Regions from separate parts of the Homo sapiens genome. Here region 1 is linked to region 2. The links come from fine-mapping of genetic effects on gene expression. Tissue or cell type: whole blood. Region 2 holds a variant in brackets; the other region holds the start of a gene. All regions are shown on one strand. Distances are from middle to middle.

Evidence for each region. PIP is the estimated chance that this variant, and not a neighbour inherited with it, causes the effect.
Region 1: TPPP starts here. The variant in region 2 is fine-mapped to the expression of TPPP in whole blood (TOPMed, PIP above 0.99).

What each region holds. Positions count from the first base shown.
Region 1 is chr5:688,343-696,441 of GRCh38, reverse strand. TPPP (tubulin polymerization promoting protein) reads left to right here and starts at 3,090. Exons shown (of 4, transcript NM_007030.3): 1 at 3,090-3,164. LOC101929898 (a long non-coding RNA gene) reads right to left here and starts at 2,902. Exons shown (of 2, transcript XR_925675.4): 1 at 2,720-2,902; 2 at 1-2,361. RefSeq lists enhancers at 1,290-2,168, 3,082-3,664 and a silencer at 2,838-3,087.
Region 2 is chr5:930,071-938,169 of GRCh38, reverse strand. No RefSeq gene overlaps it. Among named protein-coding and RNA genes, the nearest start is that of TRIP13, 41 kb to the right of the region's middle. The variant T/C (reference allele first, on the strand shown) is at 3,821.

The sequences.
Region 1 (8,099 bases), 240 kb after region 2:
GGACATTCAGCTGCCAGGGGTGGGTGGACACCTGACAGGTCCAGCTGCAGGACACCTCAGTGCTGGGACCCGGCATCCTCACACTTGGCCTCGGAGGCCTTTTCATGTCTGCTGCTGTCCGCGTGAGTCCATTGCTCCCCCCGCTCCCCGTGCCTCTGTCTTCAGCATGGGGCCTCCCAATGGACCTGGGCTCCTGTCCTGGTCTCCCACTGCAGACCCAGATGGCCCAGCATCTCCCACCATCCCTTCCACCCAGGGCTTCCAGTGCTACCCACCATGCTGTGTCTGCTCTTCCCAACCTCCACTGTCAGCCTGAACCTCTACCCACAAAACCCAACCCCAAACCCAGGCAGGGGTGGGCGCGGGTGCCAGGCAGCAGGGGCTTGTCCCGGAGAGCTGTCCTCCTCCTATGTGACAGCTGCCTGGCCTGGTGCTCCCAACTGCGGACGCAGAACCTGTGCAGGAAGCCGTGGAAACAGCTACAAGCAGGCAGGTGTCCCGGGGAACGCTCCTGGTCACTGACACGGTAACACAGGTGGAGCTGGGAAAAGCATTGGTGCTGGGGTGGTAGTGACCCCCACCCAAGAAAGTCACATTGACCCGGAACCTCAGAGTAAGACCTTACGTTAAAATAGGATCTTTGTAGATGTAATTCGATTAAAGATCTTGAGATTATCCCAGCTTCTCCTGGCGGCCCTTAAATCCAGTGACAGGTGTCCCGATAAGCAAAGGAAGAGACAGACACACTAACTCGGGGGAGGAGGCCCCGTGAGGACAGGGGCAGAGGTGGAGCCATGCGGCCACCACCCAGGACCGCCTGGAGCCACAGAAGCTGGAAGAGGTGGGAACCTCCGGAGCGCACAGGCCTTGATCTCGGACTTCTGGCCTCCTAAGCCGTAAGAGGAAAGCCCTGTTGTTCAACCCATTTGTAGTGATTTTCTAAGGATCCCCAGGAAACATCTTATAACGGGACACTTGGCGTGGATCACATCATTGGCTGTGAGTCGGTTTTCAGTAATTGCAGGGTTAATGGAGGCTGTCCAGGTCTGGCAGTGGAGCAAGAGCTGGGGGCCAGGAAGGGCCACCGGACGGGCAGCCATGGCCAGGTGAAGAGCCTGGAGTCCCGAATCAGGATCCACCTCTCCCTGCTGAGCAAGATCCTGTGCCCCTGTTTCTGGTGATTTTGTAAGTGCTGACTGAACCGACTGTCGCTGGGAAATAACACACCCGTGACCCCAAGCCAAAGTTTCACCCACAGACAAGGAAACAGACTCCATGAACACGCCGACTCCCGACGGTAGAACCGGGGTGCCCACCCCAGCCCCGGTCACTGTGTGTCCTGCGCAGGGGCCAGGGCAGCCCAAGGCTCAGCTCTGTCCTCCTGCCCAGACCTCGCTCAGCCCCCTGGACGCCGCCCCGCGCCCGCTGCCTCTCCTCTCCTCTCCTCCCAAAGGCTCCAGGACCATGTCTGCCTCTGAAGCCTGACGTTACCTCCCACTGCGATTTTATTGTAAACTCACTGCATTTATGTCAAGAGAGTTTGTACAGGTTTTGGAAAATGCACTGAAGAGTCCCCTTGTGCCTATTAGGACGGTAAGAACACACCAAGGAGAGATTATTTCATTATTTCTTTGATGCTGTTAGTAGGATCTACCCGAGGGGGAGGCACTCCGGGCTCCGCGGGACGAGAAGGCAGCCGAGCCCGCACCCGAGCAGGAGGGAAGCAGGAGCCGCAGCGTGGCCGCCGCACAGCTTCGGGGGTCCCCCGACTTCCCAGCTGCGAGTGTGGAATTTCTCAGGAGAACTAGACAGAAGCCCATCTCTGGGCAGCACTGAGTGGAAGGAGAAACCACAGGAGAGGAGAGGAAGTGTGGGGCGCGGGACCACCGTGGGGTGGGTGGGGGCCAAGCCGCCGGGCTGTGAGGCCTCAGCACCCCCTGCCCAGCACCCAGCACCCCAACTTCCCCTTCTGCCTTTGCGGATTCCAGGGCCTGCTGGACACCTGGTGCAGGGACAGAGCCGGGGCTGGGGGAGGAGCTCAGCTGCACTAGAGTCCAGCTGGAAGAGTCCAGCTGAAAGTCACCAGAGGCACCCCTTCCTCCTGGGGGGCTGCGCCTCGGCCTCCTCCAGGGCAGGTGCCCCTATGCCCCTCAAGTCCCAGCACCCAGCACCACAGAACCGCCCTGTCATCTCGGCCCCGGAACCTTGTGGGGAGCCAACTCCTGCGGAGGGCCGGGCAGCCCCGGGCGGAATGAGCCCCCTCCGCAAAGCCTGTCTGGGGAGCGGGGGAGGGGCGGCAGGTGCCCGGAGAAAGGCGAGATTGGAAGAGCGGCCGGGATGGTGGCGCTGCATACGGGCGACCTGCAGGGAGAACGGAAGCTGAGGCCGGGGTCAGGGGTGCGCGCTCCGCTCCTCCACTCCTGCGTGAAGGGCGGCCCACTCCCGAGCAGCTGCGCTGGGCGCCCGGCACGGACCCGTCTCCCTGCTCAGGTCGATCCCCGGCCGCGCTGCCCCCACCTGGAAGCCCAGTCCCCTGGGTGCGCCCCGCCTTGGGGTCCGAGCACCCTCACAGCCCGGCCCTGCCGCTTCCCTGCACCGTCTGCGGCTCCTTAAAGAACTGGGCGCGGTCGGGGCTCGCCCCGCACCGTCCTCGAGGCCCCGCCGCCAACCCACCCCACCCCAGGAGGCCGCGGCCGCGCTCATCCATCCCCCGCCGCACCGTCAACGCGCGTCCTGCGGGGCGGAGAGATCGGGGTCCGGTCGTCCCCGGGGGGCCCCAGAGCCAGGTGAGGGGCCCCGCCGCCCCCTGCCCAGCGGTTCCCACGACCCGCGGGTCGGCCGCGCCCTGCGCTGAGCGGATACCCGGCGGTCCGCGGGGCCTGAGCAGAGTCGGCCTTGTAAGGCAGAGGTCTCGGTGCGCCCGCGCGTCCCCGGGCCGGGTGGGGCGGCGGGGGCGGGGCTGCCAATGAGCGCGCGGGGCGGGACGCTGGGCGGGCGCCGGACGCTGGGGGCCGGGGGCGGGCCCGGGACCGGGCTGGGCGGGGCTGGGCGGTGCTGGGCGGGACGGGCGGGCGCGGGGCGGCGGCTGGAGAGCTCCGCTGAGCACCGGGTCGCGCGCGGCCGAGTCGCGGAGGCGCCTCCGCTGCAGTCGCTGCGTCTCCAAGGTAAGCGGGCGCGGGGCTCGGTCCCGCGGGCGCGGCGCGGGGGGCACCCGGGGGCGGAGACTGGGCCCGTCAGCCCCAGCAGCCACCTGCGCCGCAGCCCCTGCCCCCCGCGCTCCCCCGAGCCCCCTTCCCGGACCGCCCCGCGCGTCCCTGAGCCCCCGGATTGGGATGCCCGGAGTTCGGCGCTGCGGGCTCGGTGCGAGGACGCGACGGGGAGGCTTTGCAAAGGCCGCGAGCGGGGGTCACCGTCGGCCGCGCCAGGGACAGGTCTGTCACCGTCTCCGGGCCCTGTGCCTGGCGCTTTGGCCTTTCTTCGCGGCCACGGACGCCCCTGCAGCCCTTCCCTCCAGACCCTCCCCAGCTCGGGACTCGAACCGTTTCCCTATTCCCAGGCCTAGGGGGCCGCCGGTGTGAGGCGTGGGAAATTAGGGCGTGGAGGGCTGGAATGAAGTCACTGCCCGCAGCAGGTTTTGAGAGATCCCTGGCCACAGAAACGGCCCATCTCAGGGTCCTGACACCACCGCGTCCTGGCAGGTGGGGCTGTCAGACCGCCCCCCGCAGAGCCTCCAGCTGCCCCGGGTCTTGGCTACTGTCCGCGGGCCTGTGGCGATGGAGAGGCGCTGCCGGGACACCTTCCCGCACCCCTGGGAGCAGCGCCCGAAGATCTGAGGAGCCCTTTATTCTGCGGTTTCGGTTACGTAAACGGAGCCGAGGGAGGTGAGAAGCCTGTCCCTCCCGGGCAGTGGCGGGGCTGCTGTTTTGATAAGGGTTTTGGGGGGGCTGTTGTCTTGATGGGGGTTTGGGGGGCTGCTGTTTTGATAGGGGTTGGGAGGCTGCTATTTTGATACGGGGTTGGGGGCTGCTGTTTTGATAGGGGTTTGGGGGGCTGCTGTTTTGATAGGGGGTTGGAGGGCTGCTGTTTTGATAGGGTTGGGGGACTGCTGTTTTGATAGGGGGTTGGGAGCTGCAGTTTTGATAGGGGTTTGGGGGCTGCTGTTTTGATAGGGGGTTGGGAGGCTGCTGTTTTGATAGGTGGTTGGGAGGCTACTGTTTTGATAGGGGGTTGGGGGGCTGCTGTTTTGATAGGGGTTGGGGGCTGCTGTTTTGATAGGTGGTTGGGGGCTGCTGTTTTGATGGGGTCTGGGGGGCTGCTGTTTTGATGTGGGGTTGGGAGGCTGCTGTCTTGATGGGGGCTTAGGGGGGCTGCTGTTTTGATAGGGGGTTGGGGGCTGCTGTTTTGATAGGGGTTGGGAGGCTGCTGTTTTGATAGGGGTTGGGGGGCTGCTGTTTTGATGGGGTCTGGGGGCTGCTGTTTTGATGAGGGGTTGGGGGCTGCTGTTTTGATACGGGTTGGGGGGGCTGTTGTCTTGATGGGGGTTTGGGGGGCTGCTGTTTTGATGGGGGTTTAGGGGGCTGCTGTTTTGATGGGGGTTGAGGGCTGCTGTTTTGATGGGGGTTGAGGGCTGCTGTTTTGATGAGGGTTGGGGGCTGTTTTGATGGGTATTTGGGGGCTGCTGTTTTGATGGGGGTTGGGGGCTGCTGTTTTGATGGGGGTTGGGGGCTATTGTTTTGATGGGGTTTGGGGGGCTGCTGTTTTGATGGGTATTTGGGGGCTGCTGTTTTGATGGGGGTTGGGGGCTGCTGTTTTGATGGGGTTTGGGGGCTGCTGTTTTGATGGGGGTTGGGGGCTATTGTTTTGATGGGGGTTGGGGGGCTGCTGTTTTGATGGGGTGTTGCGTTCCCTCTCAGTGTCACCGCTGATCCACCTGGCATGTTTATTGGCTCTTCTGCTTGCAGGGCCCCTGGGGGACCGATAGAGGACTGGGCCCCTCCGCCCACCCCGGCCACCCCTCCCCGCCTGACTTCTCAGGGGGAGAGGTCTCCCCCCACGCCCAGCCAGCCCCTGCCCCTGGGAGGTGACCCAGCTCCCTGTGGCCTGGGACTAGGAGATGGGGCTGGACCAAGGCCGGGAAGGGGCAGGAAGTGGAGGGGAGTGAGGCAGCTGCAGCCTGATGCCGCCGCCTTGAACTGGGCTCTCGCGCCTGTCAGCCGCTCGGTGCCAGCGCCTCCCCACCACGTGATCCTCGGAGGGCCTGTGGGGGAGGGGCGGGCTCCCGGAGCGGCTGCAGAAGGCGAGCTCCAGGAGGGTGTGTGCGTTTTCCCGGGAGGGGTCTGCAGCTTTCATGGTTTCTAAACGGATCTCTGATTCAGAAAGGCGCCGGCATGAACTCGCTTTGCATCTTCACAAAACATGAAGTCATGGGGATTGGACCGCGTGTGCGTGGAGGAAGCTCCGCTGGTCACTGGCTGCGTTTTAATCTTACAGCTGCGGTTGGTCTATCTTCCCGAATTCCCTGAAGTTGCAATAAATGTTTTAGCGATTATACGAGGTTATAAATGCTCGTTGTGGAAATGAGCATAGAATGCTCACAGAAATGGTCAACAGGGGCTTCCTTTTGACCCCCTACCCTAATTTGCAAGCCTCACACTGGCAGTGGCTGCCCTAGGCCTGGGAATCGGTAAACAGGGTTCGTGCACCGGGCTGGGCAGGGCCCGGAGGGAGGGGCCGCAGGGGGCTTCCGTGGGCACAAAGGCCAAAGCGCCACACGCAGGGCTCAGGAGAACTTCCTGAAGAAAATTAGGATCACCCATCGCAGATGGAGACTGGGGAGCTCTCTGGAGAGTCAGGCAGTCTGTTCCCTCCCAGGCCTGTGGGAGCCACCCCCTGCAGAGGACGCAGAGAATTAAAAGCTTCCTCGGGAGAGGCCGTGCCAGCAGAGAGCCGAGTCTATTTATAGCTGTTGGTGAGACAGGGGGAGTGTGTGAGAGGGATGCCATCTGGGGCTCTTGGGGCCCCCAGGCCAGTGCTGGTCAGCGCCCTGCAGTACCTGGCCCAGCCTGGTGCCCTCAGGCAGAAGCGCCTTCGGGAAAACACTCTGGGTGAGGAGAGTCGCTCAATGCCTCCGCCTGGGCTGGGGGAGCCAGAAGGCTATGCCCAGGAGGGTTGTGGCCGGGTGTCTAGTCCATCTGAGCCCACAAACCCTCAGCCAGGAGCCAGGATCAGGCAGCAGAATCTACACACGCCTAGTTCCTACTGCTCGAGCAAAAGGTGTTTCCTGGGAAGGAAGGGGTGGAGCTGCCTGGGTCAGGCCCAGCCACATCTGGGGCTCAGGCCTTGTCCCCAGCATCCACGAGCCAAACCCCAAGCTGCCCTGCGTGGATCCTCCTCCTAGGGAGACCAGCTTCTTCTTGGTGTGTGTGTGTTTGGGGTTGCCACAGGGCCATAACCCACTGCATCCCCCTGATAAGATCTTCCACCCAGGGCAGCCCCCACCCAGGGCAGCCCCCACCCAGTTGATCCCCCACCCAGATGATCCTCCACCCAGATGATCCCCCACCCAGATGATCCCCCACCCAGATGATCTGCCACCTGGATGATCCCCCACCGGGGACATCCCCCACCCAGGGCAGCCCCCACTCAGATGATCCCCCACCCGGGGCAGCCCCCACCCAGATGATCTCTCACACAGGGCTTCCCTCCTAGGGCATCTGCAACAGGCTTTCCCCCTAAGGTGACATCCCCCTCCCAGGACATCCACATCCCAGAGCCACCCCCTCCCAGAGCCACCCCCTAGGCCATTCCTTCACCAAGGCTCCACCACCCAGGACAACCCCCACAAAGATTCCCCACCCAGAGCATCCTCCCCACATGGCATCTCCACCCAGGGTATTCCCCCACCCAGGGCATGTTCCCCACATGGCATCCCACGTTTGACTTCTTGGCATGATAAAAGGTGCCTGCCCATGTGGGCTCCATGAGATCCCCCAGGGCGCATGGCATCACAGACCACATTTCCCAGATCCTATAACCTGTAACCCCAACCTGCTCGTTTGTTCACAAATGTCCAACGTGGCCTCCGCCCAGGGAGTGCCACCAACAGCCGCACCTGCCAGGCGACTTCACACAGCTGCTGTCCCCCTCTGGCCATCAGTCATCAGTCAATGGGGCCAGGAGCAGTGAGCACCGTGTATGGGGTATGGAGGTGGCTTCAAACCCAGGCCCTGGTCCAAGGGCCCTCATGTCTGACACAGGCGAGCTCCCAGCACCCTCTGCCTTGTCAGGAGTATGTGACATGCCTTCCTGGCCCACAGAGGTGGGTGAAGTGTGCGTACCTCAGCGTGCCCATGGCTGCCACTCACTGTTCACCCACTCACACTGGATCCCCGCCCAGAAACACACCAGGCCAGTCCCACCCCACTCAGAAGTGCTGCTGGTGCCTCAGGGCCAGGGAGCCATGTCCAGGCCCCAGCCAGCCCCGGGGACCTGACCCAGCCCCTCCCCCTGAGCCCAGGGCACCGCTGCACAGCCACCTGCATCTCCCACCCATGGCATCTCGCAGGTGACCTGGCCACCGTGGCTGCATCTGGGGCGTCCACCCTCTCCTGCGCACACCGGCCCCCGCTTCTCCTAAGGCTGCCCAAGGGCCGGTTTTCTCTGCCCCTCGGCGGGGTGGCACCTCTGCCTTCTCAGTGCCTGAGGAGCCTGGGCCATGGACAGAGCCACTGGGGTGAAGCTCATCTCAGCCTCACCTCCCACCAGGCTTGTTCCTGCCACCTTCGTCAGTGCCCACGTGTCCCCAGGCCGCCTGCTGGGAGGGCCCCACCTGGCACCTGGCACAGTCCACCTGCAGTTCTAGTGCCAGCCGTTCTGGGCCGCCTCTCTTCGTGTTCCGGGAGTGGGATGGGGTCTTACTCACCGTCCGTTTTCCCGTCGAAGCTGCAATTCCTGAGCACTGTGCTTTGGCTTTGCCTGTTTTTAACCTTTAACCAGAAGCCACGTGGTGGGCACACTGCTGTGCTGGCTAACGTGGATCAATACTGTGCGCGAGTGGTCCGTCCACACTGCGTCGAGGAGCCCCAGGTGCTCGTGCTCAG
Region 2 (8,099 bases):
GAGTGCAGTGGCACCCTGTCAGCTCATTGCAAACTCTGCCTCCCGGTGTTAAGCAATTCTCCTGCCTTAGCCTCCTGAGTAGCTGGAATTACAGGTGTGCGCCACCAGGACCAGCTAATTTTTGTATTTTTAGTAGAGACAGGGTTTCTCCACATTGGCCAGCTGTGCTCGAACTCCTGACCTCAGGTGATCCACCCACTTCTGCTTCCCAAAGTGCTGGGATTACAGGCGTGAGCCACTGCGCCCAGCCACAAAAGGGAAACTTTAAGCGAAACAAAACACAAGCATCCACAGCTGATCCTGCTTTGGGTCACCAGAGTGAGAATCTTCAAGTGTGCTCCACACCTGGGAGCTGCAACCTGCAACTGTTGGTCAAGGAGCCTCTCCTTGGGTCGCGGTGCAGCCCTGGGATGCCAGCCCCTGCTCCCCAGGGGTGTCAGGTGGTGGACACTCAGTGCCCAGGTGCAGTCCTGCCACCGCCCGCCATGCTTATAGTGTGTGCTCAGGGGTCCCCTTGGCCCAGACGGCCTCTGACTTTACTTCTGACATCCAAGCCCTGGTCCTTGCCCCAGTTTGGGAGGATCTCAGCCCCGCTGACTTGATGGCTTTCAGCTGCCTGAACTCTTACCCTAAAACTCTGCCTTAAAGCTCAGGGTGGCTTTACTGAAGCAACACACTCCCTCTTGAGGAAGGAGCCAGTCTGTCCCCTTTGTTTTGCCAGAGGCTCTATGTCACCTAGCATGGTGTCTGGGATCATGGCGACCAAGACACTGAATCCTCCAGCCTGCTCCGGGCGGATCAAGGCACAGGCCCACTGGCCCCAGCAACCTACACGGCCTCTGTTTCCCCTTCAGCACGATGGGAGAGATTGCAAAGCTTCCCAAGAGCTCAGGTCCAAGCCTCTCCAGGAAGTCCGCCACTGAATGTTTTTCCTAGAACAAGTTCCCACCACACTCCTCTTTTATCACCCCTCCCCGGTATCTTGTTTTTCCCATCACAATCCCCAAGCTGGGGAAGAAACTTTTCTTCCTGAAAGGCAGCCTGAAGTAGAAGCGTGGCCTGCTGAACTCTGCAGAGCCCGGATGTGTTTCAGTATACGACAGAGGTGCACCTCTCCATGGGTGCACCAAGGAGAGGACCACAGACATGCCACAGGAGGTGGAGGCTATGGGGATAGGGGCCCAGAAAGAGAGCACTGAGGAGGCCTCAGACATGAGGGGGCTGCAGATGCACCAAGAAGAGGACATGGCGTGGGGGGCACAGGCACACATGTCATGGGAAGCCACCAACACACCACATGGGGCCACATTCTGGAGCCACCACAGAAGGGGGTCTCTAGGGGGCCACAGAACCACCTGTGGGGTCCCAGATTCCACCTTCCTCTCACCAGAGAATTCTGTTTCACTTCATTTACAGGGTGGGCTTCTAGGTAAGACTTCTTCTAAAGGAAGTTTCTGTGGATTTCATGAAAACAACTGGCATGAAGGTGAAAAGCAAAGCTCTCTATCCAAAGACGTCATGATTCCCAACCCAGCCTCTCCCTGTGACGGCACCAGCTTGAGTGGGCAGCCAGGATGCCGACTGGCTCTCTCCGTGCTGGGGTGGGGTCAGGGCTATAGCCCACGGAGGAAGCCAGAGGGAGAACTTTAAAGCGGGGCAAAGTCCCAGTTCCCCAGTCCCATGGGAATGAACCCCAGTCGGGAGAAACAAGAAGAAACTTTCCTAGATGGCTTCTCATGAAGGTGCAGAGCAGGACCCAGCAGCGGCCGGAGACAGGCAGATCCAGCGTCAGGGCACAGGCCTCGTGACAACAGACCATGGGCAGGAGAACACACAGGAACGAGGGTGAAGTGGAACATTCCAGAAACACCACCGCTTGCCACCGTGGGGGACAGTGTGGGACTGCCAGCACCAAGCATCTGTGAGGAAGGGTCCAGGCTGCCTCTGGGCTTAGAGGCTTCCAACTTCCTGAGGACCCGATGACTAAAGTGTTGAGCCATGTAATAGGTATCAACTCCACTTCCTCACGCAGGCGAGAGAGGGTCTGCTTGTAGTCACACACGCAGCGTAAGACCAAGCCTTTGACTGTGTCGAATGGACAGCTTGTCATCTGCCTGCTGGAAGTTTAAGTTGCAGCAATTCACTCATTCCTCAGGCTGTGCAAACACTGAGCTGCTCATCTCGCCACAAGGGAAGATTAGTGATATGGTTTGGATTTGTGTCACCCCTAAATCTCATGTCAAGTTGGAGGAGGGGCCTGGTGGGAGGTGATTGAATCCAAGGGGCCAACTTCCCTTGCTGTTCTCATCATAGTGAGATCTCACGAGATCTGACGGTTTAAGTGTGTGCAGCACTTCCCCCTTCGCTCTCTCTCTCCTGCTCCACCACAAGATGTACCTTGCTTCCCCTTCTGCCATGATTGTAAGTTTCCTGAGGCTTCCTACCCATGCTTCCTGTTAAGCCTGTGAAACTGAGTGAATTAAACCTCTTTTCTTCATAAATTACCCAGTCTCAGGTAGTTCTTTATAGCAGTGTGAGAATGGATGAATACAGAAAATTGGTACCAGGAAAGTGGGGCATTACTACAAAGATACCTGAAAATGTGGAAACAACTTTGGAATTGGGTCATGGGAAGAGGTTGAAACAGTTTGGAGGACTCAGAAGAAATAGGATGATGTGGGAAAGTTTGGAACTTCCTAGACTTGTTGAATGGTTTCAACCAAAATGCCGATAGTGATATTGACAATGAAGTCCAGGCTGAGGTGGTCTCAGATGAAGATTAGGAACTTATTGGGAACTGGAGTAAAGGTGACTCTTGCTATGCTTTAGCAAAGAGACTGGTGGCATTTTGCCCCTGCCCTAGAGACCTGTGGAACTTCAACTTGAGAGAGATGATTTAGAGTATCTGGTGGAAAATATACCTAAGCAGCAAAGTGTTCAACATGTAACCATGTGACCTGGCCGTTTCTTTGTTTTATTATTTTTATTTATTTATTTATTTTTGGAGACAGATTCTTGCTGTCACCCAGGCTGGAGTGCAGTGGAGCGATCTCAGCTCACTGCAACCTCCACTTTCTGGGTTCAGGCAATTTTCCTGCCTTAGCCTCCAGAGTAGCTGGGACTACAGGCACACATCGCCACACCCAGCTAATTTTTTTTTTTTTTGTATTTTTAGTAGAGACAGGGTTTCACGTGTTGTCCAGGCTGGTTTTGAACTCCTGAGCTCAGGCAATCCACCTGCCATGGCCTCCCAAAGTGCTAGGATTACAGGCATGAGCCACTGCACCCGGCCAACCTGGCTGTTTCTAAAAGTGTATGCTCATATGCGTGAACAAAGAGATTATATAAAGCTGGAATTTATATTTAAAAGGGAAGCAGAGCATAAAAATTTGGAAAATCTGCAGCGCAGCCATGTGGTAGAAAAGAAAACCCATTTTCTGGGGAGAAATTCAAGCTTGCTGCAGAAATTTGCTTGTAAAGATGAGCCAAATAGCCAAGACAATGAGGGAAATGTATCCAGGGCATGTCAGAGACCTTCATGGAAGCCCCTTCCACACAGGCCCAGAGGCCTAGGAGGGAAAAATGGTTTCATGGGCCAGGCCCAGGGCCCAGCTGTTCTGTACAGCATCAGAATATGGCATTCTGCATCTTAGTTGCTTCAGCTCCAGCTGTGGCTAAAAGGGGCCAAGGTACAACTTGGGCCATGGCTTCAGAGGGTGCAAGGCCCAAGCATTGGTGACTTCCACATGGTGTGGGGCCTGCAGGTGCACAGAAGTCAAGAGCTGAGGTTTGGGAACCTCTGCCTAGATTTCAGAAGATA[T/C]ATGGAAATGCCTAGATGTCCAGGCAGAAGTCTGCCTGCAGAGTCCTCATGGAGAACCTCTACTAGGGCAGTGCAGAGGAGAAATGTGGGGTTGGAGCCCCCACACAGAGTCCTCACTGCAGCACTGCCTAGTGGAGCTGTCAGAGGAGGGCCACTGTCTTGCAGATCTCAGAATGGTAGATCCACTGACAGCTTGCACCATGCACCTGGAAAAGTCACAGGCACTCAACACCAGCCCATGAAAGTTGCCATGGTGGCTGTACCCTGCAGAGCCACAGAGGCAGAGCTGCCCAAGGCCATGGGAGCCCACTCCTTGTGTCAGTGTGGCCTGGATGTGGGACACAGAGTCAAAGGAGATCACTTTGGAGCTTTATGGTTTAATGCCTGCCCTGCTGAGTTTTGGACTCGCATGGGGCCTGTAGCCCCTTTCTTTTGCCCAATTTCTTCCATTTGGAATGGAAGCATTTACCCAATGCCTATACCCCCATTATATCTTGGAAGTAACTATTTTTTATTTTACAGGATCATAGCTGGAAGGGACTTATCTTGTCTCAGATAAGACTTTGGACTGTGGAGATTTCAGTTAATGCTAAAATGAGTTAAGACTCAGGGACTGTTGAGAAGGGATAATTGCATTTTGCAATGTGAGAAGGACGTAAGCTTTGGGAAGGGCCAGGGGTCAAATTTTGTGGTTTAGATTTGTGTACCCACCCAAATCTCATGTTGAATTGGTGAGAGGCCTGGTGGGAGGTGACTGAATCCAGGGGGCTGACTTCCCCCTTGCTGTTCTCATGATAGTGAGTTTTCATGAGATCTGAAAGTTTTAAAGTGTGTGGTACTTCCCCCGTCACTCTCTCTCTCCTGCTCCACCATAGGAAAATGTGCGTTGCTTCCCTTTCACCTTCCACCATGATTATAAGTTTCCTGAGGCCTCCCAGTCATGCTTCCTGTTAAGCCTGCAGAACTGAGTCAATTAAATCTTCTTTCTTCATAAATTACCCAGTCTCTGATAGTTCTTTATAGCAGTGTGAAGACAGACTAATATAATTAGAAAGTACACAGAGACCTAACTTTAGGTTCATTTCCAGAAGAGGGCCTGACCTGCTGCTCAGGGGTTAGTATTTCTTGCTTAGTCTTGTCTTTCTCATGGAGACACAGGCATACACACTTTCTCCATCTTCACATCCAGCTTCACTAATGGGTCATACTTTCCTTTCATTCCAAAATTTAAGCCAAATAAAAACTAGCCAGAACATTGGGCAATTGTTCTCCAAAAGGGAAATAAAAGAAGTCATTTATCTCAGCAGAAAGTATAACAACTCTGTTATGAGTTTATGGGTGAACCCAGGAATTGCCTTCCCTTTGGATCACCCCTTATGGCTCTAGTTCTGCCCAGAAACAGAAGGTTCAAGCCCTGGCCAACCAAAGCCAAGAGCTGCCCTCAGTCCTCATTCCTTGCTGGAAAACGGGCAGCCATATCCTTTTTCACAGAGGTGCAGAGGTCAAGTTAGTCACAGCTCAGCTCAGGATGTGGTTCTGAGGAGGCGACTGACAGGTGGCAATCGTCACTGATGCCTTGTTGCTGTTCTTCTCCAGTGACCATCGTCAGCCTCTGATTTATTCCCAGGCACCAGCAGCCAGGCTTCAGTCATCAGCCTTGCCCAGCTGAACACAGCTCCTGCTCTTGGACAGAGGAGGGTGGGTTTCAGGAGGGCAGCCACTCAGTCCCGCAGCTCGGGCCCAGGCTACCATGCTTCCTCTGGGCAGACCACTCTGTCCCTCAGTGAGCAGAGGGCTGGCATGTTAATGTCCCACTTGGAATTACTGAATTGACTCCCATCATCCTTGTATTCCTCTCTCTGTTCCTTCCCAGGACATAGCAATGCCTGAAGGGAGGAGCCTGTCCATGCCATCTGCCCCTCAGACACCAGCTCCGGCGGCGTGGATGCTGCTGCCTTCCAGGTGGCTGGGAGCCCGCTCTCACGTTTGGGGGTTAATGTCTGTGGAAAGGGAGGGTGCCCAGTTCACATGGGATTTTGCTCCCCTGACACAGAACGCAAGGATGCTGTGAGCTGAGAGTGAAGTCATTGTCCACCTCCCAGGGGCCACACTGCAGGTCCAAGTACAGAAAAGAGAGTGTCTTAAAGGAAGCCTTTGACTCTCTTTGGCTGAGTTTATGGAAAGGAAAATGAATCAAGCCCAAAATGGCCAGTAATGGCAGGGTCATTATTCCTTAAATGAAGCTCCACCTGCCTTTCCAACGAGGCAAGAACCAAATGCGTCCTTTGAAAGGAGGGCTCAGAGGTGCGGGTGCAGAACCCCATGCTCTCTTGAAGCGGTGTGGCCTGTCCCCAAACTGAGAGTCCCCATCTTCAAAACGGAGAGTTTGGTCACTTGAATTTTGTTGACATTTCTTACCTTGGGAAGCAGCTGGCTTCGTGCTGTTCGAAGTTGACCTCCTTTGCTCCAGATGGGAAGTGCCCCCAAAGCTGGCATGAACAGCTGTCACTCCCTAAGAAACTGCAGCTTTTTCTGAGGGCGGGAGCAGGTGCTCACCGATTTCCTTCTGTGGCGTGATCCTGAAGGAGCTAAGAGCCCACCACCCCAAAGGCATTGCTCTGGCTTTAAGCTGATCGCCATTCCATGTCTTAAAAGCAGGAGACGAAATTCTCATGTGAAAGATGCCCTCCCCATACGTTTGGGAAAGCATCTTTCTTATCAACAGTGGGAGGCCCAGACCCAGAGAGATTTCAGCATAGCCTCCTTAAAATCACTCTTCTTGGCAGCCTCCGCACACAATGTATTTTTCACAGCTTACTACTCCACCTCCAATTCAGGGTGCACAAAAGTTCTTTGAAAAGGAATGTAGAGGAAAGACTATTCCTATGAACAGTTTGTGAAGTGGGAGATGCTGCCTTCAGCGTAAAACCAGGATGCTTTCCAGAGAACAAAGAGAGGGTCCAGCTTTTATACTGAAAGTTCTCACATAGGTTCGCTTATGCAAATGAAAAATTCAAACTTCCTGTGTTCTGATGGGTTGGTTCAGGGGAGCTCTGGAAGTCCCAAAGTTTAACAGAGGTATGGGATTTCAAGGAACTCCGGGTACCCGTGTGACCTCTAGTCAGCAAACGGTCACTGGGCTCTATGAGGATTTAGGGCCGGTGAGCCACTAGAGATCCACCCATCCACTTCTTGCAAGTCCTGTTTGCTCACATGGGTGTGAGTGTCCAACTCTGTGGCTTTAGGGCATTCCTTCCATGGGAGGCTCTCCCACCATATAGAGCTTCCTTTAAATAAGCTTCCGTGCTTTCCTCCTGTTGATCTTTCTGCGTCAGTTAAATTCTCCGGTGCAGCCTGAGAGTCTGTACACAGGTGATCATATTCACAGGTTAATGTGCTCACAGGTGAATGTACGGGGAGGTGAATGTGTTCACAGGTGAATGTACTGGGATTAAATGTGCTCACAGGTGAATGAATGTACTGGGAGGGGAATCTGTCACAGGTGAATGTACTGGAAGGTGAAGGTGCTCACAGGTGAATGTACTGGGAGATGAAGGTACTCACAGGTGAATGTACTGGGAGGTGAAGGTACTCACAGTGAATGTACGAGTAGGTTATGTGCTCACAGGCGAATGTACTGGGAGGTGAAGGTGCTCACAGGTGAATGTACCAGTAGGTTATGTACTCACAGGTGAATGTACTGGGAGGTGAAGGTGCTCACAGGTGAACACATTTGGAGGTGATGGTGCTCACGGTGGAAGTATTTGGAGTATACCTGTGTATGTCTGTTCTTGCAGTGCTCTAAATACCTGAGAAATCTTACAATCATTGTGGAAGTCTAAGGGGAAGCAGGCACATCTTCACTTGACCAGAGCAGGAGGAGGAGAAAGAGAGGGTAGGTGCCATATGCTTTTTAACAGATCTCATGAGACCTCTATGAGAACATCAGCCAAGGAAGAAATCAGCTCCCACGATCCAATCACCTCCCACCATGCTCCACCTCCAGCTTTGGGGATTACAATTCAACATGAGGTTTGTGTGGGGACACAAATCCAAACCATATCATTTCACCCCTGGCCTCTCCCAAATCTCATGTCCTTCTCATATTGTAAAATAAATCATCCCTTCCCAACTGTCCCCCAAAGTCTTAAGTCAGCACTAACTTAAAAGCCCAAGTCCAAAGTCTCATCTGAGACAAGGCAAATCCCTCCTTCCCCTGAGCCTGTAAAATAAAAAACAAATTAGTTACTTCCAAGATACAATGGAGGCACAGGCACTG